Linked DNA regions of Homo sapiens. The protein of the gene in region 5 purifies or fractionates together with the protein of the main gene of each other region. This does not show direct contact. Each region holds a gene or a part of one and is shown on either strand. Other genes may lie near its edges.

The links.
Region 1: the proteins of PMPCB (region 5) and AMY1C purify together in Homo sapiens (affinity purification with mass spectrometry, with the first as the bait; 3 studies listed by BioGRID). This does not show direct contact.
Region 2: the proteins of PMPCB (region 5) and POGLUT3 fractionate together in Homo sapiens (co-fractionation; one large-scale study listed by BioGRID). This does not show direct contact.
Region 3: the proteins of PMPCB (region 5) and GMPS fractionate together in Homo sapiens (co-fractionation; one large-scale study listed by BioGRID). This does not show direct contact.
Region 4: the proteins of PMPCB (region 5) and PPP4R3B purify together in Homo sapiens (affinity purification with mass spectrometry; 3 studies listed by BioGRID and IntAct, with this or other methods). This does not show direct contact.
Region 6: the proteins of PMPCB (region 5) and SUCLG2 purify together in Homo sapiens (affinity purification with mass spectrometry; 2 studies listed by BioGRID, with this or other methods). This does not show direct contact.
Region 7: the proteins of PMPCB (region 5) and PPP4R3A purify together in Homo sapiens (affinity purification with mass spectrometry; 3 studies listed by BioGRID and IntAct, with this or other methods). This does not show direct contact.

What each region holds. Positions count from the first base shown.
Region 1 is NC_000001.11:103,752,898-103,756,044, reverse strand, and holds part of AMY1C (alpha-amylase 1C precursor), read right to left. Parts: intron 2,497-3,147; coding exon 2,363-2,496; intron 1,547-2,362; coding exon 1,424-1,546; intron 1,331-1,423; coding exon 1,231-1,330; intron 1-1,230. UniProt on the Homo sapiens protein: Calcium-binding enzyme that initiates starch digestion in the oral cavity.
Region 2 is NC_000011.10:108,484,885-108,488,384, reverse strand, and holds part of POGLUT3 (protein O-glucosyltransferase 3 isoform 1 precursor), read left to right. Parts: intron 1-1,944; coding exon 1,945-2,228; intron 2,229-3,500. UniProt on the Homo sapiens protein: Protein glucosyltransferase that catalyzes the transfer of glucose from UDP-glucose to a serine residue within the consensus sequence peptide C-X-N-T-X-G-S-F-X-C. Can also catalyze the transfer of xylose from UDP-xylose but less efficiently.
Region 3 is NC_000003.12:155,912,150-155,915,649, reverse strand, and holds part of GMPS (GMP synthase [glutamine-hydrolyzing]), read right to left. Parts: intron 1,232-3,500; coding exon 1,080-1,231; intron 1-1,079. UniProt on the Homo sapiens protein: Catalyzes the conversion of xanthine monophosphate (XMP) to GMP in the presence of glutamine and ATP through an adenyl-XMP intermediate.
Region 4 is NC_000002.12:55,558,623-55,562,122, reverse strand, and holds part of PPP4R3B (serine/threonine-protein phosphatase 4 regulatory subunit 3B), read left to right. Parts: intron 1-3,154; coding exon 3,155-3,348; intron 3,349-3,500. UniProt on the Homo sapiens protein: Regulatory subunit of serine/threonine-protein phosphatase 4 (PP4). May regulate the activity of PPP4C at centrosomal microtubule organizing centers.
Region 5 is NC_000007.14:103,307,435-103,310,934, reverse strand, and holds part of PMPCB (mitochondrial-processing peptidase subunit beta isoform 1 precursor), read right to left. Parts: intron 3,340-3,500; coding exon 3,227-3,339; intron 1,984-3,226; coding exon 1,840-1,983; intron 621-1,839; coding exon 460-620; intron 1-459. UniProt on the Homo sapiens protein: Catalytic subunit of the essential mitochondrial processing protease (MPP), which cleaves the mitochondrial sequence off newly imported precursors proteins. Preferentially, cleaves after an arginine at position P2.
Region 6 is NC_000003.12:67,497,613-67,501,112, forward strand, and holds part of SUCLG2 (succinate--CoA ligase [GDP-forming] subunit beta, mitochondrial isoform 2 precursor), read right to left. Parts: intron 684-3,500; coding exon 522-683; intron 1-521. UniProt on the Homo sapiens protein: GTP-specific succinyl-CoA synthetase functions in the citric acid cycle (TCA), coupling the hydrolysis of succinyl-CoA to the synthesis of GTP and thus represents the only step of substrate-level phosphorylation in the TCA.
Region 7 is NC_000014.9:91,461,811-91,465,310, forward strand, and holds part of PPP4R3A (serine/threonine-protein phosphatase 4 regulatory subunit 3A), read right to left. Parts: coding exon 3,440-3,500; intron 1,068-3,439; coding exon 925-1,067; intron 430-924; coding exon 239-429; intron 1-238. UniProt on the Homo sapiens protein: Regulatory subunit of serine/threonine-protein phosphatase 4. May regulate the activity of PPP4C at centrosomal microtubule organizing centers.

The DNA.
Region 1 (3,147 bases), on a different chromosome or scaffold from region 5:
ATGTGAAAATGCCTTGAACATGACATATGCTAAATAAATATTGGAGGCCGTCATGCTTCTTTTTAGATAAATGTACAAAATACTACATCTGAACATTTTTTTTTATAAATTGACCATATTTTTAGTATTATGCTTTTCTGATTGGCACTTTAAGAAATCTTCATTAAAAAACACAGAGTAACCCTAGGAAGTTTATCAGTGTTCACCTTAAAATCACGTCATATGGTGAAAAGTGAACAAAACTTAAGAGTTTATAGCATGCAGCAGTCCTGTCAAAGTGGGAATGTTATAGTAATAGAAAAAATAAAAGAACTCTCTGACTCCTAACAACAGAAATAAGACCAATTAGTAGAAATTATAAGAAGTTGTCTCAATATAAAAGTACACCTTCTAAATATTAAAGCTGTTTAACAATAGAATCAGTTGTTATACATAGTAGCGGACTTCTCAAACTGAAAGGAATCTAAAAAAAGCTAGCTAGATATCTGTGTGACTCATAGGAAGGAGGAATTTCTGCTTTAGTTCTGAAGTCTCTGATGCTGTTTCTCAACCCTTTAGTTTAAAAGAAAACCTTCTACTAGCTTTCCAAATATCTTTACACTCTTATTTCTCTGTTCCTTTTTGAAACTACTCAGCAGAGTGATGTCTTTACCATACTCCCAAATATTTTTCTCATTCTTACCTTTCTTGGAATACTCTCTATAAATTTCTATCCTTTAGTACATACAATTTCCTTCCTCTTATAGTATACTTTCCCTATTTAACTCAGCTGAACTGGATCATTTGTTTCTATACCATATAACTTTTTAACAGTATTTAAAAGACATTTATATTGTTCTCACTACGGGCAGATGATGTTTTAAGTTCTCTACAAGGGTTGGCATCTATATTCTTCCAATTAAACCTGAGGAAGGTACGAAGTATATATTTTAATCCCTGTGCCTAGCTCTTATTTTTAAGTGGTTTTTTTAATTTTTATTTTTATTTTCCCTGCGGGCTAGGGGGATGTTTGTCATATCTCTGAAAAAGCTTGCTATTCTTTTTCAATGGAGAATATAAAGTTTATTCCTTTAATATAACCTGCATTACTAAATCACAACCCTGTATCAGGTTTACAATAATTAAATATTTGTTGAATAAATAAACACTTAATAGTTGTCATATTAAATTAGGAGAAGATTGCCTCTTTTTTCTTGAGAAAAGGATATTTTGAACAACTCCAAAACTTACTTTTCCATTTTCAAAATATCTTGGCCAACGGTAGCTTGACATTACTCGTGTAAATCCATAAGGATGAGCAAGCATAAATCCAACTGCCATTTTGTACAGCCTGAAAGTTACATAATTATATTATCATAGAATATCACAATATTCATACCATCATTAAAAGAGGTGTTAAAAAATAGAGAACTTGGTTTTCTACCTAGCATCCCAGAAGGTAAGTATAGAGGCTCCTCCAGCGCCATGTCCTCGTTGATTGTCATGGTTATCCACAAAGACAAGCGCTCTGTCAGAAGGCATGAAACCCCAACCTTCTCCCCAGTTCCTATTTTTGAAACATAAGATATACGTTGATGTATCATTTCACAATAGTTTGAGAGTAACTCTACTGTGCATCTCTTTCTGTAAGGCATGGCATCTGAAGATTAAATTCTTTCTCTAATTAGATGGTTACTCTGTAAGATATATATATATACACACACACACACAAACACACACTCACATATATATACACACACACCTCATAAACAAACACACGTGTGTAATCTACATATATATAGTCCATATTTGTATATACATGTATGGAATACTTATATTCATATTACAAATATAAAATGTTTGTTATTAAAAAATTTCCTTTCAGAGGTTTCAGCACATTATCATTTAGAGGCACTCCAGAAGGATCAATATCCACATCACATTATACAGAATGTCAAACTAGATTAAAATAAGGCTTTAATATTGTATTGTTATAATATAAATCATTTTACATTTCCAATTCGTATAAGTAAATACAATAGCATGGACACTTTGTACATACTTTATAAATGATAGGATCATTTTAATAATAACCTGGCTTTAAAAGATTATATGCAAACATCAGTCAAATCCAGTATATTCATCTTGTACGCAGACAGAAACTCCTAGGGTAAGTTTAGCGTTCCTAGGCATACTGTCTTGTGACAGACACTCTAAATACAAAAGATGATTGATTAGAGTTTAGGGCACTAGAATACTTATCATTAACAACTGACTCCTTAATAGTTGTCTGAATAAGAATGTTCCAGAAGATAACTCGCACTGGGGTAGTATGACTAACAGATCTATGAAATAGTTCAGGGGAAAAGTTGTATTTATTTACTTTAAGTAAGACATCTTCTCTCCATTCCACTTGCGAATAACTGTGCCGAGTTTTGCACCATACTTGAATTCTGTCACCCGGCCATTACCAAAGTAGTCACTGCTTTTAATTGGCTCACCACCCAGATCAATTACCTAGAAGAAATTTAGGAAAAAAAAACATTTTGCATAAGGACTTTAAAGCATTTTAACCGATAAGTTTATATTATATAAAAATTAGCTTTCAGCTATTTCTGAGTTATTTTAGACTTGTTGTGCTTTGTTCTTTAGAGACAGGGTCTTGCTATATCGTCCAGGATGGTCCCAAACTCCAGGCCTCAAGGAATTCTCCTGCCTCAGCCTCCCAAAGTGCTGAGTTACATGCAAGAGCCACCACGCCTGGTCCTATTTGTTATATGAAACGCTCAAAATCGTTTTCTTATTCTTATTATCTTCATCGGTAATATTCTTATATTCTTTTTTTGATAAAGTATACACTACAATATTGAAAGAAACATAATGTCAAAGTTACCTGTTGTCCTGTGAGAATACTTACCTAATTTTTAGTCTTGTACATCAATGATAATAATAACAGCTCACAGGAATACGATATTTACTATCTGACTGACTTTTTTTGATAAATATTAACTCATTTCATTTTCCAAAGAAAATAAAGACATAACTATTATCAGTATCCTACATTCTGTGTACCTCCATAAAACCTGTTGTGATAAAGAATTAGATATGCTGTATGTGAAGAAGAGGAGGTTAAAGAACACTGTTTTAAGGAAATGACTCAGTCTTTAT
Region 2 (3,500 bases), on a different chromosome or scaffold from region 5:
TCTCTCAGACTCACTGTCCTTCATTGCCTAATACCTAGTGCCTTAAAAACTATTGTTTAAGGCCAGGTGCGGTGACTCACGCCTGTAATCCCAGCACTTTGGGAGACCGAAGCAGGTGGATCACTTGAGGTCAGGAGTTCGAGACCAACCTGGCCAATATGGCAAAACTCCGTCTCTACTAAAAATACAAAAAATTAGTTGGGCGTGGTGGTGAGTGCCTGTAATCCTAGCTATTCAGGAGGCTGAGGCAGGAGAATCACTTGAACCCAGGAGGCGGAGGTTGCAGTGAGCTGAGATCACACCACTGCACTCCAGCCTAGGCAACACAGTGAGACTCCATCTCAAAAAAACAACAACAAAAACAACAAAAAACTATTGTTTCATATGTTTTGTGGGAGTGTTTTCTGGTTGTTTCAGGTGGGGTGGTACATCAGTCCCTGTTACTTGTTGTCAATGAAAAGAGTCAAACTTATGGCCAGGCATGGTGGCTCACGCCTGTAATCCCAGCACTTTGGGAGGCCGAGGCAGGTGGATCACCTGAGGTCAGAAGTTTGAGACCAGCCTGGCCAACATGGTGAAACCCCGTCTCTACTAAAAATACAAAAATTAGCCAAACATGGTGGTGCACACCTGTAATCCCAGTTACTCGGGAGGCTGAGGCAGGAGAATCACTTGAGCATGGGAGGAGGAGGTTGCAGTGAGCCGAGATCACGCCACTACACTCCAGCCTGGGCGACTCTGCCAGAGTCTCAGCCAGTGTGAGACTCTGTCCCCCTGCCACCAAAAAACAAAAATAAAAGAAAGAAAGAAAAAAGAAGAGAGTCCAACTCTAAAATATTTGAAGAGCTTTATTCTGAGCCAAATATTCAATTCAGTGAGACTACCTGTTTTTGCCTACAGTTTCCCTCCCTGCACTACAGCCTCGAAGCTCCCTTAAGCAGTAAGCTGTAGGAATTGTAGGGCTTACCTTATTGTTCCCCCATCTCTCAGACTCAATGACCAATGGCCCATGACACAACCCTCAGGACATCCTGAGAACCTGTGCTCAAGGTGATCAGGCTACAACTTGGTTTTATACATTTTAGTAAGACATAAGACATTAATCAATACATTTAAGATGTACATTGGTTTGGTTTGGAAAGGAGGGACAACTGGAAGGGGTGGGGGTGGTTGGGAGGGGTTGGGGGTAGCTTCCAGGTCATAGGTAGATTCAGAGGTTTTCTGATTGGCAGTTGGTTGAAAGAATTAAGTTATTGTGTAAAGACTTAGAATCAATAGAAAGGAATGTCTGGGCTTATGATAAGGGTTTGTGGAAACCAAGATTTTATCATGCAGATGAGGCTTCCAGGTAGCAGGCGACAGAGGAGATTGCAAATGTTTCTTATCAGACTTAAAGAGTCAGTTCAACAAAGTTTGTGTTGATGTTAATGCTGGTCAGCTAGGCCTGAATTCCAAAAGGGAGGAGGGTATAATGAGGCATGCCTGGTTCCCCTTTCCCTTCGTGGCCGAACTAGTTTTTCAGATTAACTTTGGAATGCCCTTGGCCAAAAGGAGGGATCCATTTGGACGGTCTAGGAGGCTTAGAATTTTATTTTTGGTTTACATAATGTCTAAAAATTAATACGTTCTTTTTCTCCTTGCTAAAAGGTAAGTTGTTTCATGTTTGCCAGCCATTTATACCTTATTAGAGATGAATTTATGAGCTAAGTGACCGAGAGTAGGTTAGATTGGGAGAGGGCATATACTAAACTGTTTATCCAAGGTGGTGTGAAAAGGAAAGTAAAAGTGTAGGACTCTAACATAATCACTTACACCACTGATTTGTCTAGGGCAGATTATCTCTGGATAATCTTAGAATTCACCAAGAAGCAGAGACAGAAGTGACTCCCTGTGTTGTGGTGCTTGCTAATGGAGTGCGGCCTTTTTCATGTTTTCCTTCCCTAGGACCAGTGTACCATGAGTACTGTGAGTGTCCGGAAGATCCTCAGGCCTGGCAGAAGACTCTTTCTTGTCCAACCAAGGAACCACAGATTGCAAAAGATTTTGCTTCCTTTCCCAGCATCAATCTCCAGCAAATGCTAAAAGAAGTCCCCAAAAGGTTTGGGGATGAGAGAGGTGCCATTGTTCATTACACGATTCTCAATAACCATGTTTACCGGAGATCTTTAGGGAAATACACAGACTTCAAGATGTTCTCTGATGAGATTTTGTTATCATTGACAAGAAAGGTAGGAGAATGAATGAATTGATAATACAGTTTAATTATTTAGGTATAACATTTAAATGTTTAGAATTATAATGACAAAGGATGAAACAGATTTCAGGCTGAGAAATGGGCATCTAAGATATTTGCAACCTGAGTGTTCATCATGTTCTCCATCTTTGTGGATCTTACTTTCCTGTAAGATTTAAAATTAAGTGGCTTGAGGCCAGGCATGGTGGCTCATACCTGCAATCACAGCACTTTGGGAGGCTGAGGCGGGTGGATCATCTGAGGTCAGCAGTTCAAGGCCAGCCTGGCCAACATGGCAAAACCCCATCTCTACTAAAAATACAAAAATTAGCTGGGCGTGGTGGTGGGCGCCTGTAATCACAGCTACTCAGGAGGCTGAGGTAGGAGAATCCCTTGAACCCAGGAGGTGGAGGCTGCAGTGGGCCAAGATTGCGCCACTGCACTCCAACCTGGGTGACAGAGTGAGACTCCATCTCAAATAAATAAATAAATAAATAAATAAATAAATAAATAAAATAGAATAAAGTGGCTGAGCCCCCATCCCAGGTAGGTATGCCATACAGGACACTCCCAAGCTTTCTTTGAGCTTCCAGAGATTTATAACAAGGTTACTTCTTATTCTTTTTTTCAAATAGTCTATATTTACAATATCCAAACAGAACAGTCTCATTTATTTATTTATTTTTAAATAGGGATGGGGTCTTGCTGTGTTGAGCAGGCTGGTCTCAAATTCTTGGGCTCAAGCCATCCTCCTGCCTCAGCCTTGATCCTAGCTGGGACTATAGGCATGCACAACCATGTCAAGAGGCCGCTTTAAGTTCTCTGTTCCGCTGAATACTACTCCTGCTTAGATTTCACCTTCTGCAGCTGTTTTCTTCTCTTCACCTCAAAATGACTTGAACTTAGAACACATTTTCCTTGTTTTACCCTAAGCATACCTAGAAGATAGCGTGCATGGGACATTTTGTCAAAGCTTGGGCTACCAGAAACAGGTTGTTTTTTTTTTCACCAGTGCATACTAAAAAACAAACAAACAAAAACCCTGATATTTAAAAATAGACATCTCTGCACTAATCAGACTCTCAGTCATACTTGCCTCTGGGAATTTCTCAGGGCTGTCCTTGACCTTAAGTTCTTAGCCTCTCACTAATGTGGTTAGGCCCTCTGTTTTTCAGGCTCCCCACATCCCCCAATAGCGCCCCCTTATCTCACTATTCAGCCTCTCTTTCCACATTTGCAGAACTCTAAATTCCTCTTAAGCAGAGCA
Region 3 (3,500 bases), on a different chromosome or scaffold from region 5:
GGCAGGCAGATCACAAGGTCAGGAGTTTGAGACCAGCCTGACTAACATGGTGAAACCCCGTCTCTACTAAAAATACAAAAACTAGCCGGGCATGGTGGCACACGCCTGTAATCCCAGCTACTCAGGAAGTTGAGGCAGGAGAATCGCTTGAACCCTGGAGGCAAAGTTTGCAGTGAGCCAAGATTGCACCACTACACTCCAGCCTGGGCGGCAGAGTGAGACTCCATCTCAAAAAAAGAAAAAAATTAGCTGGGCATGGTGGTGCATGCCTGTAATCCCAGCTACTCGGGAGGCTGAGGCAGGAGAATCGCTTGAACCCAGCAGGTGAAAGTTGCCGTGAGCCAAGATCGCTCCATTGTACTCCAGCCTGAGTGACAAGAACAAAACTCCGCCTCCAAAAAAAAAAAAAAACAAAAACAAAGGTATGTGAACATTCCATTCAAGAGCTTGAAATTAGCCATTGAGATAATCAATGAATTAAAGTCTATGATAAGCTGAATACATCTACTCTTAAAGACATCTATTCTTAAAATAATAGCCTGGCAATGTAGGCAAACATGTTTATTAAAACATAAAACAGTTGGCTGGGCATAGTGGCTCACACCTGTAATCCCAGAAGTTCGGGAGGCTGAGGCGGGCGGATCATGAGGTCAGGAGATCCGGACCAACCTGGCCAACATGGTGAAACCCCCGTCTCTACTAAAAGTACAAAAATTAGCTGGGCATGATGGTGCACCCCTGTAGTCCCAGCTACTTAGGAGGCTGAGGCAGGAGAATCACTTGAACCCAGAAGGCAGAGGTTGCAGCGAGCCGAGATCGTGCAACTGCACTCCAGCCCAGCCTGGTGACACAGCAAGACTCTGTCTCAAAAAAACAAAAAAAAAACCAAACAACAACAAAAAAACATAAAACAGTTTCTACTGGTCAATATAATGACAATATACAATAAAACTCTCAGCCACATAAGAAAAAGGATTAAAATTAGCTAATTTGGTTATTTGATATAGTGACAAGGAAAAACAAATACTAAGATTCACATCAAAAATAGTACATGTTGAGGATATTAAAAACAAAGGTACCTTAACAAAAGTATCCCCAATGATTTTTCTTTTCTCTTCAGGACTTGTGGTCATATTTAACGTTTTGCTAATTCTTTTCCGTGGGGTTCTATCTTCATCTGATATTGGTAGGGTTGTTGTTCCATTGTAGAAAGAATGAGCAGCATTTATCACTGGAGGAAAGGGGAGAAGCGTTTTAAATTGGTATAACATGTTTTTTAATCAAAAATAACAAGTCAAAATACAGAAAGAAAAGCTATTTCTTTCCCAGTCTGAAGAGCAGTCCTTTGATCTCCCCTAAATCTGCCTACAAATTTCAATAAACTATCAATATTCAAGAATTATTGGCCGGGCCCGGTGGCTCATGCCTATAATCCCAGCACTTTGGGAGGCCGAGACAGGTGGATCACGAGGTCAGGAGATCAAGACCATCCTGGCTAACATGGTGAAATCCCATCACTACTAAAAATACAAAAAATTAGCTGGGTGTGGTGACGGGTGCCTGTAGTCCCAGCTACTTGGGAAGCCGAGGCAGGAGAATGGTGTGAACCCGGGAGGCGGAGCTTGCAGTGAGCAGAGATTGTGCCACTGCACTCCAGCCTGGGTGACAGAGAGAGACTCCATCCCCAAAAAAAAAATAAGAAAAGAAAAAGAACTATCAATAAATCCTGAGTAACAGAATTCAGATACAGGCACTCATTAAATTTTGTTTCTGTGAGAATCTCCTGGCATTTAGATCTAGGGCCATGACATCACAAATTATGCTGATTAGGGCCGGCACGGTGGCTCACACCTGTAATACCAGCACTTTGGGAGGCCAAGTTGGGTGGATCACTTGAGGTCAGCAGTGTGAGACCAGCCTGGCCAAAATGGCAAAACCACATCTCTACTAAAAACACAAAAATTAGTGGGGCGTAGTGGCACATGTCTGCAATCCCAGCTACTCAGAGGCTGAGGCAAGAGAATTGCTTAAACCTGGGAGGCAGAGGTTGCAGTGAGCCGAGGTTGTGCCACTGCATTCTGCCCTGGGCAACAGAACAAGACTCTGTCTCAAAAAAAAAAAAAAAATTTATGCTGATTGTTTTCCCTCTCTTCAGTGCTTCACCAGAGCAACAAGCAGAAGCCACAGCAAGAAGCTTAGCCCCAAAGAAGTCAAAAGCACCGGCTCCTAAACGGAGTCAAAGCTGTTGGAATCACACCCTAGTGTCTTGTAAAACTAATATTTATGAACATACATTTAACAATCCTTGGCTTTTTATTTAATGACAAGAAACTAAAAACTAAGATCTCTATTTGCTAATAAAACTTAGCTACTGGAGGCCTTCACCGTAAGATGACAAGGCAGCTGGCTATTTCATTGTGGAAAAGCCAGTGAATTTGTAGGTCTTTCCTGTACCTGGTCAACTACCCAGAGAAGACATATCTACTCTCCTGCCTATTGGCATTCTGGCAGTTAAACAGAGGAAGTGGTAGGAAGAGGGAATCACCATTCAGCATAGAGAATTTTACTTAATCCTGTTCTTAATGTAGAGTCTTACCTCCACCCTCAACTATGCCTGGTATTAGTAGGCTCAAGCCCAGAACCTCTCGTTTAGCCCCTCTAGAGAATACATCCACAGTGTTCTGATGGGGAAGGAGAGCACAGTTTGCTCCTGTGCTAAGGAAAAGGATCTGCTTCTCAGATTTTTAACTAATCCCTGTTTTAGGCTAACCCAGAGACCAATGTCCCAAAAAGAACCCAATGCTTCAAATTCCTGAGCCTCCCCAGAAGTCTACAGCACAAATCAGCTTGCTTTTTATTGGCTTCCTTCCCACCCCACCCCAAGGTTGTGAATTCCTCCATTCTGCTATGTCAGTTACCAGGGACAGATCCAAGTTTTACAATTTGAAGGACTCCTTCAAGAACCAGAATAACAAATAAGATACTAAAAATCTTAAGTTATACTGGGATGGCTAACAAGTACTTAACTATACACAGAAATAATTGCAAATCACATATATACCACTAAACCCATACTAAGCACATCCCCAGCTCATCTTTGTCTTAGCCTGATTTCAAAATGCCCACAGCTATTCCAGCACCACCTAACAGAAAACAAGTCAGAGTTGAAAGAAAATAAACAACTACAAATTATCAAAATATCTTGCAAATTTCACAAAAACCTATCACCATGTGAAGATACCATTGGGGACCTTCCCAGGATGTTGGGAGAGACCCCCCTAGCTTAAACAGAGAAAATCCACCTTTACCCATCTGCTTTCCACTTTCCAACACTTTATTGAAACCATCTGTCTTCTGTCATCTCCTCTATCCCACATCCTTAAGGTATTACACTGTTTTATGCTTTTACTGTTATTTTAGAGAAGTTTCAAAAAAATAGACTCATGTTCACATCATACTTACCTACAAGTCTTCATTTTATTCAGCCTTTTGGTATCAAT
Region 4 (3,500 bases), on a different chromosome or scaffold from region 5:
GAAACAACCAGATCTCGTGAGAACTCACTATCACAAAAATAGCAAGGGGGTTTTCTGCCTCCATGATTCAGTCATCTCCTCCAACACCTGGGGATTACAATTCACAATGAGATTTGGGTGGGGACAAGAGCCAAACCATATCATTCCACCCCGGTCCCTCCCTAATTTCATGTCCTTTTTACATTTCAAAACCAATCATGCCTTCCCAACAGTCCCCCATAACTCATTCCAGCATTAACTCAAAAGTCCAAGTCCAAAGTCTCATATGAGACAAAGTAAATCCCTTCTGCCTGTGATCCTATAAAATAAAAAACAAGTTAGTTACCTCCAAGATACAACGGGGGTACAGACATTGGGTAAATGCTCCCATTCCAAATGGAAGAAATTGGCCAAAACAAAGGGGCTACAGGCCCTGGGCAAGTGCAAAGCCCAGCAGGGCAGTCTTTAAATCTTAAAGCTCCAAAATAATCTCCTTTGACTCCATGTTTCACATCCAGGGCATGCTGATACAACAGGTAGGCTCCCAGGGCCATGGCTGGCTTCGCCCCTATGGCTTTGCCAGGTACAGCCCCCATGGCTGCTTTCATGGGCTAGAGTTGAGTGCCTGTGGCTTTTCCAGGTGCATGGTGCAAGCTGTTGGTAGATCTACTGTTCTGGGGTCTGGAGGATGGTGGCCCTCTTCTCATGGCTCCACTAGGCAGTATCCCAGTGGGGACTCTATGTGGGGGCTCCAACCTCACATTTCCCTTCCGCACTGCCCTAGTAGAGGTTCTTCATAAGAGCTCTGCCCCTGCAGCAGATTTCTGCCTAGATATCCAGGCATTTCTATATGTCTTCTGAAATCTAGGTGGTTTGAGAATCAGAGGTTACCAAACCTCAGTTCTTGCCTCTACCCCACAGGCCCCGTGTCACATGGAAGCCACCAAGAGTTGGGGCTTGCACGCTCTAAAGCCATGGCCCAAGCTGTACCTTGGCTCCTTTTCGCCATGGCTGGAGCTGCAGCACCTGGGATGCAGGGTGTCCCAAGACTGCACAGAGCAGCAGGGCCCTGGGCCCAGCTCACAAAACCATTTTTCCCTCCTAGGCCTCTGGGCCTGTGAATTAACATTTGGCTCCTTGTTACTTATTCAGATTTCTGCAGCCAGCTTGAATTTCTCCCCAGAAAATGGGGTTTTCTTTTCTACTGCATGGTCAGGCTGCAAGTTTTCCAAACTTTATGCTCTGCTCCCTTTTAAATATAAATTCTAATTTCAGACCATCTCTTTCTTCATGCATATGAGCATACGCTTTTAGAAACCGCCAGAAGGCCTCTTTTTTTTTTTTTTTTTTTTTTTTTTTTTTTTTCTGAGATGGAGTCTCTCTCTGTTGCCCAGGCTGGAATGCAGTGGCATGATCTCAGCTCACTGCAACCTCTGCCTCCCAGGTTCAACTGATTGTCCTGCCTCAGCCTCCCAAGTAGCTGGGACTATAGGTGTGTGCCACCACGCCCAGCTAATTTTTGTATTTTTAGTAGAGACAGGGTTTCACCCTGTTGGCCAGGCTGGTCTCCAACTCCTGACTTCGTGATCCGCTTGTCTCAGCCTCCCAAAGTGCTGGTGTTACAGGCATGAGCCACTGTGCCCAGCCCAGGCCACCACTTGAATGCTTTGCTGCTTAGAAATTTCTTCCACCAGATATCCTAAATCATCTCTCTCAAGTTCAAGTTCCACAGATCTCTAGGGCAGGGGCAAAATGCCGCCAGTCTCTTTGCTAAAGCATACCAAGTATGACCTTTACTCCAGTTCCGAATAAGTTCCTCACCTCCATCTGAGACCTCCTCAGCCTGGACTTCATTGTCCATATCACTGTTAGCATTTTGGTCAAAACCAGTCAACAAGTCTTTAGGAAGTTCCAGACTTTCCCATATCTTCCTGTCTTTTTCTAAGCCCTCCAAATTGTTCCAACCTCTGTCTATTACCCAGTTCCAAAGTCGCTTCCACATTTTCAGGTATCTTTTTTTTTGAGATGGAGTCTTATTCTGTCATCCATGCTGGTGGGCAGTGGCACAATCTCAGCTCACTGCATCCTCTGCCTCCAGGGTTCAAGCAATTCTCCTGCCTCAGCCACCAGAGCAGCTGGGATTATAGGTGTGCACCACCACCCCCAGCTAATTTTTGTATTTTTAATAGAGAATAGGTTTCATCATGTTGGCCAGGCTGATCTTGAACTCCTGACCTCAAGTGATCCACCCTCCTCAGCCACCCAAAGTGCTGGGATTACAGGCGTGAGCCACTGCGCCCTGCCATTTTCAGGTATCTTTATAGCAGTACCACATTCCTGTTACCAATTTTCTGTATAGTTCGTTTTCACACTGCTCTAAAGAACTACCTGAGACTGTAATTTATGAAGAAAAGAGGTATAATTGACTTAAAATTCCACATAGCTGGGGAGGCCTCAGGAAACTTGTGGCGGAAGGTGAATGGGAAACAAGGCATGTGTTACATGGCAGCAGGAGAGAGAGAGCAAGGGGGGAAGTGCCACCCTTTGGAACAACCAGATCTCGTGAGAACTCACTATCACAAGAACAGCAAGGGCGAAATCCACCCCCATGATCCAGTCACCTCTCACCAGGTCCCTCCCCTGACATGTGGGGATTACAATTTGATTTGCGATTTGGGTGGGGACACAGAGCCAGACCATATCATCACTGTACACATCATGTTCTTTTTCAAAAGTTCTTAGGAAACAAAGGCAATTAATTTTGGTGTTATTTTTTTTTGTTTTTTTGGTTTTTTTTGAGACGGAGTTTCGCTCTTGTTGCCCAGGCTGGAGTGCAGTGGTGCGATCTCGGCTCACCACAACCTCTGCCTCCCAGGTTCAAGTGATTCTCCTGCCTCAGCCTCCCAAGTAGCTAAGATTATAGACATGCGCCACCACACCCGGCTAATTTTGTATTTTTAGCAGAGACGGGGTTTCTCCATGTTGGTCAGGCTGGTCTTGAACTCCGGCCTTGGGTGATCTGCCTGCCTCAGCCTCCCAAAGTGTTGGGATTACAGGCGTGAGCCACCATGCCCGGGCAGCAATGTTTTATAAGTTTTTTAATTACTGCTGTTTTTAGATGTTTTGACTTAGCAGTATTTATTGATATACGTTCAAAATTTTACTTTTGCTTTAGCAAAAGAAAGTGAAGACAAGGAAAACCTTCCCAAAAGGACATCTCCTGGTGGCTTCAAATTTACTTTCTCCCACTCTGCCAGTGCTGCTAATGGAACAAACAGTAAATCTGTAGTGGCTCAGATACCACCAGCAACTTCTAATGGATCCTCTTCCAAAACCACAAACTTGCCTACGTCAGTAACAGCCACCAAGGTAGGTGAAACAGCATTACACACAAACTTTGCTTTTCCCGTCTGTGAGATTTTTTCATGTTTACTGAAAAAAATTTGGATAATCAAAACAATTTCAATGAATTGTTTAGAATTTTTCTGTTACCAAAATGTTGATTGTAGAATTTTATTTTA
Region 5 (3,500 bases):
AGGGTGGATCTCCTGAGGTCAGGAGTTCAGGACTAGCCTGGTCAACATGGTGAAACCCCATCTCTACTAAAAAATACAAAAAATTAGCCAGGCATCGTGGGCATGGTGGTGCGCCTGTAATCCCAGCTATTCGGGAGGCTGAGGTGGGAGAATGGCTTGAACCTGGGAGGCGGAGGCTGCAGTGAGCCGAGATGGCACAACTACACTCCAGCCTGGGCAACAGAGCAAGACCTCATCTCAAAAAAAAAAAAAAAAAAAAATTCTATAGTATAAATCAGCTTCACATCTTGAGACTTAGGAAAAACCAACTGCAACCTTTGAAAACATGGCAACTACTGTTTATCTAGGTCTCTTAATTAAAAGGTAAAATTACCATAAATCACCATAAAGTATAAATAAAAAACTAGTTTAAAACGAATTAAAGGCAAAATTTAAATTACTTAAAGCTATTTTTCTCACCATTCTTTTTGAACAACATGTAGCATGTCTGCAACAGTGGATGATTCACAAACCATATACAGTCCCCATAATCCTGTATCTGTGTAGGAAGTGTTGAAAGACTGAAAGCTATGGCAAAGATTGCCATGACAAGTGAGCTGGGCCAGCTTGCTAGATAAATTCTGCAAGGAAAAAAAAATTCCAAGAGAATTTTAATTATACATGTCCAAAATACAGAAAGAAAAATGGAGTGTGTGGAAAATAGTGAATATCCTTAGAGGCTGTTTCCTAGTTTTATTCAACATCTCAGTAGTAGAGTTAAAATTCAGTATGACTAAGAATTGTGTTTATTATCTCACTTACCCAGTGCACCCCCTGGAGAAATTCATGTTATAAAAGCAATGAGTCCTTATAATTAATGTAGTAGCTATACCTACTTCTAAAACTAGATGGCTATTATCAACCCAATTTCTAGGACTCTTGGCTACATACGCTTAAAGATTCAAAGTTATATTGCATATGAAGCTTAAGATTATTTAGATGAAATGTATTTTGGAGAAATCTATGAGTAAAGACAAATCTATACAATGTGTTTTGAAATAATTCCAACTTACAAAAAAGTTGCAAAAACAGTACAGAGAATTTCATTTATCTAGATTCCCTGTTATTTTACCATGTTTGCTTTATTCTCTTTATACAAGTTTTTTCAACTGAGTTTTAGATGTGATGCTTCTTGCCCCAAATACTTTAGTATGTACTTGTGAAAAACAAGGAAATTAATGTTCTTACATCACCTTGGTATAGTTCCTCAGTATCTGTGGAGAATTGGTTCCCAGATCCCTGTGGATACCAAAATCCACAGATGCTAGAGCCCTCATGTAATATGGTATATGTAATATTTGCATATAAGCACATTCTCCTGTATACTTTAAATCATCTCTAGATAAATACCCAATCCATGTAAATGCTATGTAAATAGTTGTTATACTATATTGTTTAGGAAGTGACCAAAAAAAAAGTCCATACATGTTTAGTACAGATGCAACCATCCATTTGTTCCCCAAAATTTTCCACCTATGGTTGGTTGAATCCACGGATATGGAACCCACAGATATAGAGGGCCTACTGACTATTAAAATTAGGATATTAACATTGACATAGTACTTCTAGCTAATTCTGTCCTTATTCAAATTTTGCCACTAATAAACTTTGTGGCAAAGAAAAAAAGAAACTTTTTCTGGCCCACATGCAATCCAGGATCAGTTTATATTTTTAAGTCAGAATTCACAGTACAAGACTCTATTCTGCCACTTTAAAAAAGGATTCTTACAAAGAACTTATATTTAAGAAAACATGATAATCTTCCATCTGTTATGGAAAATTTCTTTTAAAATCACTTACCATTCCTCCCCCAAAAGAGCGATCCCAGTTGCCAATCAGCGTGTTTGCAACCATGAGACAGATTGTATCTGGATGTGCCCAACCAACAGCTTCAACAGCTATTGCAAGGTGCGCCAAAGGCATCTTGTCATCCCTCACACGAATCTAGTTAAGATAAAGCAGGAGGACCTCTAGTTAAGATTAACATTATATAACATGCTTATTAACAAGGAAAAAATCACCAGTCCCATTAACTGCAAAGTTAAAATGCACACCAGGACTCTATTTTGATTTTTTAACTATCAGGCCTCATTACATTGTTGAGTTTAATCTAGAAGAATTAAGACTAAATTAGGGAAAAATTACTTTTCCCAAAGCATTTTACTACAGACAGGCACCACATGGTTTACCTGGTCAAAAGGGTTGCATCATTTCACTGGTAGAAATCAATCCTTTGTGTTTGTCAATCTGAATTTGTCTTTTTCTTTCTTTTTTTTTGAGACAGAGTCTCACTCTGTCGCCCAGCCTGGAGTGCAGTGGCACCATCTCGGCTCACCGCAACCTCGGCCTCCCATGTTCAAGCAATTTTGCCTCAGCCTCCCGAGTAGCTGGGACTACAGGCATGCACCACCACGCCCAGCTAATTTTTGTATTTTTAGTAGAGACGGAGTTTCACCATGTTGGTGAGGCTGGTCTCAAACTCCTAACCTCAAGTGACACACTCGCCTCAGCCTCTCCAAGTGCTGGGATTACAGGCGTAAGCCACCGCACCCGGCCTCAATCTGAACTTTTCTATTGAAATGTCATATTGACGTTACAGGTTTATTTTTGTACTGCCAATGCTACAGTTCTAGGCAGCTGCCAATATCAGGGCATTTTCCAGATACTACTTTGAGCATCATCCTCAACATGGCAAACTAAGCAGCTAGTGGGGCTTAAAGCTAGTTGATAACTAGTAGATCCCCTGCAAGTTCTGGCTCTAACAGTTACTACCCCCTCCCAAAACATACTGTGGGCAAAACTGAGCCAAGAGTAAACCTGAAGTGAAAGTCAAAATACGGGGTTTAAAAGATTACTTCCAGATATTACAATATGTAAATTGGCATAGTGCCAAAGAAAAAGCACAAAAAGACCAAATTATAAACTGCTCTTAAAAACTTTGCTTCCTTTCAGACTAGAATGGAGAAATTTAAAAACAAAACAAAAAAAACCTTGCTTCCTTAGGAAGAAAAATAGGTGGTTAAAGAATACGGAAGAGGAAGGAATGTAAGCAAATGAGTACATCCTCTTCCCTTTTCCTATTATTCCATTCTTTTCCTACTGGAAATATGCACATTTTGTTTACTTATGTGTAAATACAACACAAGGAATCCAAAAGGCTAAATACTAGCTGGAAGGCTTGCCCTACCTCACTTCCTGTGAATTTGCAGGGAGGCAGAGCTGGTATTTCTCCTTTGTGTGTGCATAAAGAGTCACCGAAATGAAACTTTGCTAAGTCAAGCAATTCATCATGGGAAACACCTAAATTGAAAGAAAATATTTTCACATGTATCTAGCAGCAATATAGTTTACAATAAACCCTAGGTGGTATAATGTGATGTACATTACACATGAACTATCTACACTCACTAAAAGCCATTATTTAAGAGTAAGCTCACATAGCACACCTATTTCCTTGGTGT
Region 6 (3,500 bases), on a different chromosome or scaffold from region 5:
GATAAAGGAATTTTGTTTTAAACCTAAATTTCAGAAGAGTTCTGCATATTAATACTGAGTTGAGCAGCAAAGGTTCTAATTTTTTACTAAGCAAAGTTTAACTGAGATGTTTTAAGTCAATATTTCTCAGTTGGGGTGATTTTTGCATACCACAGCCATTTGGAACTGTCTGAAGACATTTATTTTAATTTATTGATTTACATGGGTTTATTTGTCTTCACAAGTGGGGGTTGTTAGTAGTATCTAGAGGTTAGGATGCTAAACATCTTATGATGTACAGGACAGTAAAGAATTATCCCACCCAAACTCCCAATAGTGCCAGAGTTGAGAAATTCTGCTTTACACCAGTGACCATTAATCAAAACAACTTTGAGAAGAAACTTGGATACTTTCCTAAGACTTTTCAGCTACAAAAAAACTTATGTGCTTACTTCTTCTTGGTAAGTGACATTTCAGAAATCAAGGTTTCCTAAATTCTATAAGAATCCACAAAGCATTCTTTTGATATAACTGCTTCTTACCAAAGCAGGCAATGTTCCCATCTAGTCCTATGTATTTTAGATCATATTTGGCAGCTTCATTTTCAATGGGCTCATTCTCTGATTTGTCGTCCATAGCAAATATGTCTTTTTGTCGGAATTCTGCGTTGTCATCAAAGTTTATCTTGGCATCAAAACAGACAACTAAATAAAGAAGAAAACAATCATACTTGAATATCTCTTGAGGATCTATAAATTAAGTTCTTCAGGCTGGTAGGCACAAGCGAAGGGAAAGTTAAGTACTGTCATTTTTTTTCACATGTTACAGGCAGGAGAGGCTGCTTTGGCTTTCTTGACCTTTAAATTTTAGGGTTTGGTCCCTGTTGTCAAGGGACTTACGTTCTAGTAAAGAACATAGTAATTTCTACCTGTTGTTCTCATTTCAATAGAATAACCCCAAAAGTTGCCATCAACCATTAAAAGTTACAGACTGGCACAGCTTCATAGATACAGCTTTGATTCATTATTTTTATTATATATTTTTAGTATTTAACCACTAATTATCACCTTTCTCTTCTATGTAAAGAGAGACTAGACAATATTATTAATTATTTTGTCCCCTATTGTCCTTTTCTTGATATGGTAAAGTGAAATTTTTATTGAATCAGTATCCTGTCTAGTATTTCCAAAAGATTTAGTGGAAAGAATGCCAGACTAGAATCGCTCGATTTTTATTTGATCCTTAACTAACTCTGTAACATTTATTAAAAATAAAAATTGTATACACTTGAGTCTTGAACAACATGGGTTTGAACTGTGAGGGTCCACTTATAGCTGGATTTTTATTCTCAAGATGTAAAGCCCCAGAGGGTCGACTTTTCACATACATGGGTTCTGCAAGGCCAACTGCAGGAATTGTGCAATATGAACGAAGTTTGGTATATCTGAGATTCCTGGAACCGATTCCCTGCATATATTGAGGGACAACTGTGTATTTAAAGCATACAACATCATGTTTTGATATACATATAACACAGTGAAATAATTAAACACAGTGAAATGATTACTACACTGAAGCAAATTAACACATCCATCTTCTCATATAGTTTTTGGTTTTTCTTTTTGGTGTGGGAGAGCACTTAAAATATATACTTTTAGCAATTTCCAGCATACATTACTAACTCTGTAACCTTGATAAAATAACCTAGTTCTTCTCTGGGCCTTGGTTTTTTAATTGGAAAAAATGGCAATAACAATCCTTAAAACAAGGGCCATGCCCTTGATTCGTGCAGGACCATCTTATGGTGCTTCAGATTCAAGTTATAAGACACGAAAAGACCAAGACTGGTCAGTCACAAAGCCAGGATGCCAGGCATTATTAGCACAATTGTCTCTAGTTTCTGGAGCTGGTGGAAATCTCCTGGACCCAGCAAAACTCATTCCATAATAGGAGACAGACTACAGGGCACTTTCCTTGATTTACAGATCTCCTATACATACAATCAGGGAGAGACTGCAGTGGAGAGGGTGGCATTATTGGTATCTGGGTATCTGACCCCTTTTATTATCTCTCTTAGTGTAGAAATTAGTGTTCTGTGATGCCATGTCATCATAATGTTTGTTTGTTTGTTTATTTATTTATTTATTTATTTATTTCGGAGACAGAGTCTCACTCTGCTGCCCAGGCTGGAGTGCAGTGGCGCAATCTCGGCTCACTATAACCTCCACCTCCCAGGTTCAAGCGATTCTCCTGCCTCAGTCTCCCAAGCAGCTGGGACTACAGGCATGTGCCACCATGCCCAGGTAATTTTTTGTATTTTTAGTACAGATGGGGTTTCACCGTGTTAGCCAGGATGGTCTCGATCTCCTGACCTTGTGATCTGCCCACCTCAGCCTCCCAAAGTGCTGGGATTACAGGTGTGAGCCACTGCACCTGGCCAATGTTCTTTTACTTAACTTGGGATATTGATAGCCAGGAATCTTTGAACAATAATTTACAGATACTACCTATTCTCCTCCAGCATTGCTGACAGGCACCTGACTCTTGAAAGGGAAACAGCCACAGAACATTTCTCACTCACTGAAAAGCAGTGGCTATAATCTCCTAATTATACTTGCTTCTTATGAAAATAAAACATGGCTGTATATGGCATCTTGGCGTTAGAGACCCCAGGTAGAGGGTTTTCTCCAAGGGTTTCCCTACCACAATATTCAAGCACTTTGATACAAATCTGTGTAGACCAGCATATTAACATCTAAGAATACTTGTTATAAGTATATATATAGACCGCACATGACTTAAAGTAGCACTGAGCGACAAGAGAGAATCTTATATGGAAGTTAATGTCTGCTTAAATCCTTAGTCTTGCCCCAAAATGCCCAACCACTTTGTCCACACATTGTGAATGGTTGGAGTGAATGAGTAATTACTTTCCAAAATATTGAAAGCTTATTGACAGAATCCTACAATTACCAAACGAATTGGCCAATGTTCTCTGCTTGCTACAGGGGAATTTTCTCAGCAGTTAATGACTGGTATAATAATCAATAAAAAAGCAACTTCGTACATGGCTTTCCACTAGGTTTATAAATGCATTCTAATTAATTTATTAGTAATTTTAGCTCCTCCATTACTCATTGGCAAGACTACTTATAACTGACACCTTCAAAATGAATGGGCTAAGGTTATCAAATTGACTTCCTAAGGGAAGAGTTTCAAATAAAGGAATTCTTGGTTGAGATCAATAAACAAGTAAATCAAAATAGTTTCAAGCTGACCTTTGCTCCTTACAAAGACTACAGTTACAAGCTGCTTCAGAGAGAGAATAATTAATGGGTATGTATTCAAAGTTCAAAAGGCAATCCCAACTAAATGCCTGCAAAGCTAGATTTTCAGAGGATGTTTTTCTGTGGTATGACGTTCTCTCCAGGGAACAATCTTGACAGAACTTTGCAGTTAACCCAGAGCTTCAAGATGGTGACTATGGGATAAAAGGGGTGTATATCTACAACGGTCCTGTG
Region 7 (3,500 bases), on a different chromosome or scaffold from region 5:
ATCATATTTAGTATCCCTACCCTTCCTGAAATAGTATATTCCTTATTCAACTCAAATTAAGAAAACTTAAGTTTATGCCTACACAACACTGCTATTCAGTCACATCCCATAAAGCAATAGAGTCTTTAAACCGTATGCCATCACACCTTCCAAGCAAATAATCATTTTGTCAAGAAATAAGAATAAATCTAGAGTAAGAAAGCCTTAATTTTCTCTTGCCCATTTTTTTCCAACATACATTTCTTCCTTTCCATGAATTTACTTATTGGATCCATAATATCATCATCATTTTTAGTTTTGTCAGATGGAGACACTACAGCTTCTCCATCTTCCATGTCATCTTCATCTGTGTTAAACCACATCTCTTCTTCATCTTCTAGTGTTCTGGCATCTCTTCGATATCTGTGATTCCTCAAAATGGAACGCATACTATGAGTAGGGAAGAAAGAGTAAATACAATCATATATGGACTTAATTGTACTGTTACAGATGACTTATTAAACTTGTTAACATAGGGAATTAACATGAAATTTACAAATATTAAAGTATCAATGTAAATCCAGGTATTTAGATTAATGTACAAAATTTTAAATAATAATTTGTAACCTTAGTAACTTGTAAATTCAAAGCAAGTAATATAATCCTCTGATTTTATTTGGAACACATGAAGCCTCACTTCCACTGTTTGGTCTTTTTTTTTTTTTTTCCCTTATCTAGCCTGATACATGCCTGAGGTATTATACTAATAACCAGCCTAATCTTCAGGGAAACATTTATGTTGACCCTTACAGGAAGCTACAATTTCTATTTGCTATCTGCTGATTTCCCTGTTCCTTGTCAAGCCAAATAATATCAAATAAACAATAAAGCCACTACCATACGACTTGATGCTGAACGAATAGGTTTAAATATATGGTAATTTACCTGTCAAGTTTGGGATTATCTTGCCTTTCTCTTTGTTGTTCAAATCTCAGTTTTAATCCTTTAAATGTCTGTACATAATCTACATCTTCCAGTGCTTTCCAGTAATTTTCAATTACATGAGCAGTTAATGATTTTATATCTTCCTACAGAAAAGAATAGTAATGAAAAAATGATAGGAAAATGTCATTTTAGCAAGATGAGGCTTAATTTAATCAATTCATACCCACCAAAAATAGCTTAATTTAATAAAACTACATAATCTTAGAGATAACCAAACAATAAAAAATGGGAATAACGTACACTGGCTACTATAGTAGTCCCCAATTTATCTATGGGTCTTTTTTTTTTGAGATGGAGTTTTGCTCTTACTGCCCAGGCTGGAGTGCAATGGCATGATCTCGGCTCACTGCAACCTCTGCCTCCTGGATTTAAGCGATTCTCCTGGCTCAGCCTCCAGAGTAGCTGGGATTACATGCATGCACCACCACGCCTGGCTAATTTTGTATTTTTAGTAGAGATGGGGTGTCTCCGTGTTGGTCAGGCTGGTCTCGAACTCCCGACCTCAGGTGATCTGCCTGCCTCGGCCTCCCAAAGTGCTGGGATTACAGGTGCGAGCCACTGCACCCAGCTATCTATGGGTCTTTACAAAGTAAATGCCCAGGTCTTGCCCTAGGTGATTCTGATTCTGATGTGCGGGCTGGGTATGTGTATTTTTTAGAGATGGGGTCTCGTTCTGGCACCTAGGTTGAGATATAGTGGTATGATTATAGCTCACTGCAGGCTTGAACTCCTGGGCTCAAGCAATCCTCCCACCTCAGCCTCCTGAGCAGCTAGGACTATCGGCATGCACCACCATACGGGGCTAAGTTTTAACAAAAAATTTTTGTAGAGATGGGGTCTTGATATGTTGCCCAAGCTAGTCTCTAACTCCTGGCCTAAAGCAATCCTCCCACTTTGGCCTGCCAAAGTGCTGGGATTACAGGCATAAGCCACTATCCCTGGCCATGGACATATATGTTTTATTAATTAATTTTTATTTTAGGTTCAGGGGGTCCATGTGCGTATTTGTTATACGGGTAAACTGCGTGTCACAGGGGTTTGGTGTATAGCTTATTTCATCACCCAGGTAGTAAGCACAGTACCCAATAGGTAGTTTTTCAATCCCCACCTTCTCCTACTCTCTACCCTCAAGTGGCTCTGGTATCTGTTGTTGTTCCCTTCTTTATTTCCATGTGTACTCAAAGTTTAGTTCCCACTTACAAGAGAGAACACACAACAGCCATGCGTATTTTAAAAGCATGTCACAGGCCGGGTGAAGAGGCTCATGCCTGTAATCCCAGCAGTTTGGGAGGCCAAGGTGGGCAGATCACCTGAGGTCAGGAGGTTGAGACCTGCCTGGCCAATAGTGAGACCCTATCTCTACTACAAATACAAAAATTAGTCGGGTATGGTGGCGCATGTCTGTAATCCCAGCTACTCTAGAGGCTGAGGCAGAAGAATCGCATGAACCTGGGAGGTGGAAGGCGCAGTGAGTCGAGATCATGCCACCGCACTTCAGCCTGGGTGACAGAGTGAGACTCTGTCCCCACCCCCCTCCCTCACCCCCCAAAAAAAGCATGTTACAGAAAAGTTCTGGAGATGAATAATGGTGATGGCTGCCAACAATGTGAATGTTTACTTTAAAATGGTTAAAATAGCAAGTTTAATGTTTTATATTATTTTATCCCAGCTTTTAAAAAAGCACGACATCCAGGTACTGTGGTATGCACCTCCAGTCTCAATTACTTGTGAGGCTAAGGTGGGAGGATCGTTTGAGCCCAGCTGGGCAACATAGCAAAACCCTGTCTCTAAGAAACAAACAAAACAAAAAGCCATGCCAGATAAATTTGCACAGCATCAATGAGAACCACTAGCTTATTACATTACTAGAGAATAAAGAGTATTATGAAATTGGTCTTTAGAAATGTGTAAGTTAAGAAAAACACATTCAAATGCTTATCTGTCAAGTGTAGTTTTGCTTTCTTAAAATGATTACTGTGACCATCCTACAAAGCAGCAGTCCCTAACCTTTTTGGTTTCATGAAAGACAATTTTTCCACCAACTGGGGTGGGAGTGGGGGAGCACAGTTTCAGGATGAAATTGTTCCACCTCACAGTTAACCAAAGGGTTCATGCTCCTAGGAGAATATAATGCTGCTGCTGATCTGATAGGAGGTAGAGCTCAGGCAGTAATAATGCCTGCTTGCCAGCAGCTTACCTCCTGCTGTGCAGCCTGGTTCCTAACAGGCTATGGACCGGTCCGCGGCCAAGGGGTTGAGGACCCCTGCTATAACAGATTTGTAGCTGCTGAGAGGTAAGATGTAGCTTGACTCAAATCTCTCACAGGCTTTTAGTACTTTTTTTTTTTTTTAAATCTCTCCAAATATTATCATCTCAAGCCAAAATACTAGGTAATGCATATTCAATTTTCTCAAACAATTAAAATGAAAATTCTAATTAAAAATACAGAACCTACCACTCTAATAAATTCAAACATCTCTATTATGGCAGAGTTCATCAGATTGTAGCGGGATCCA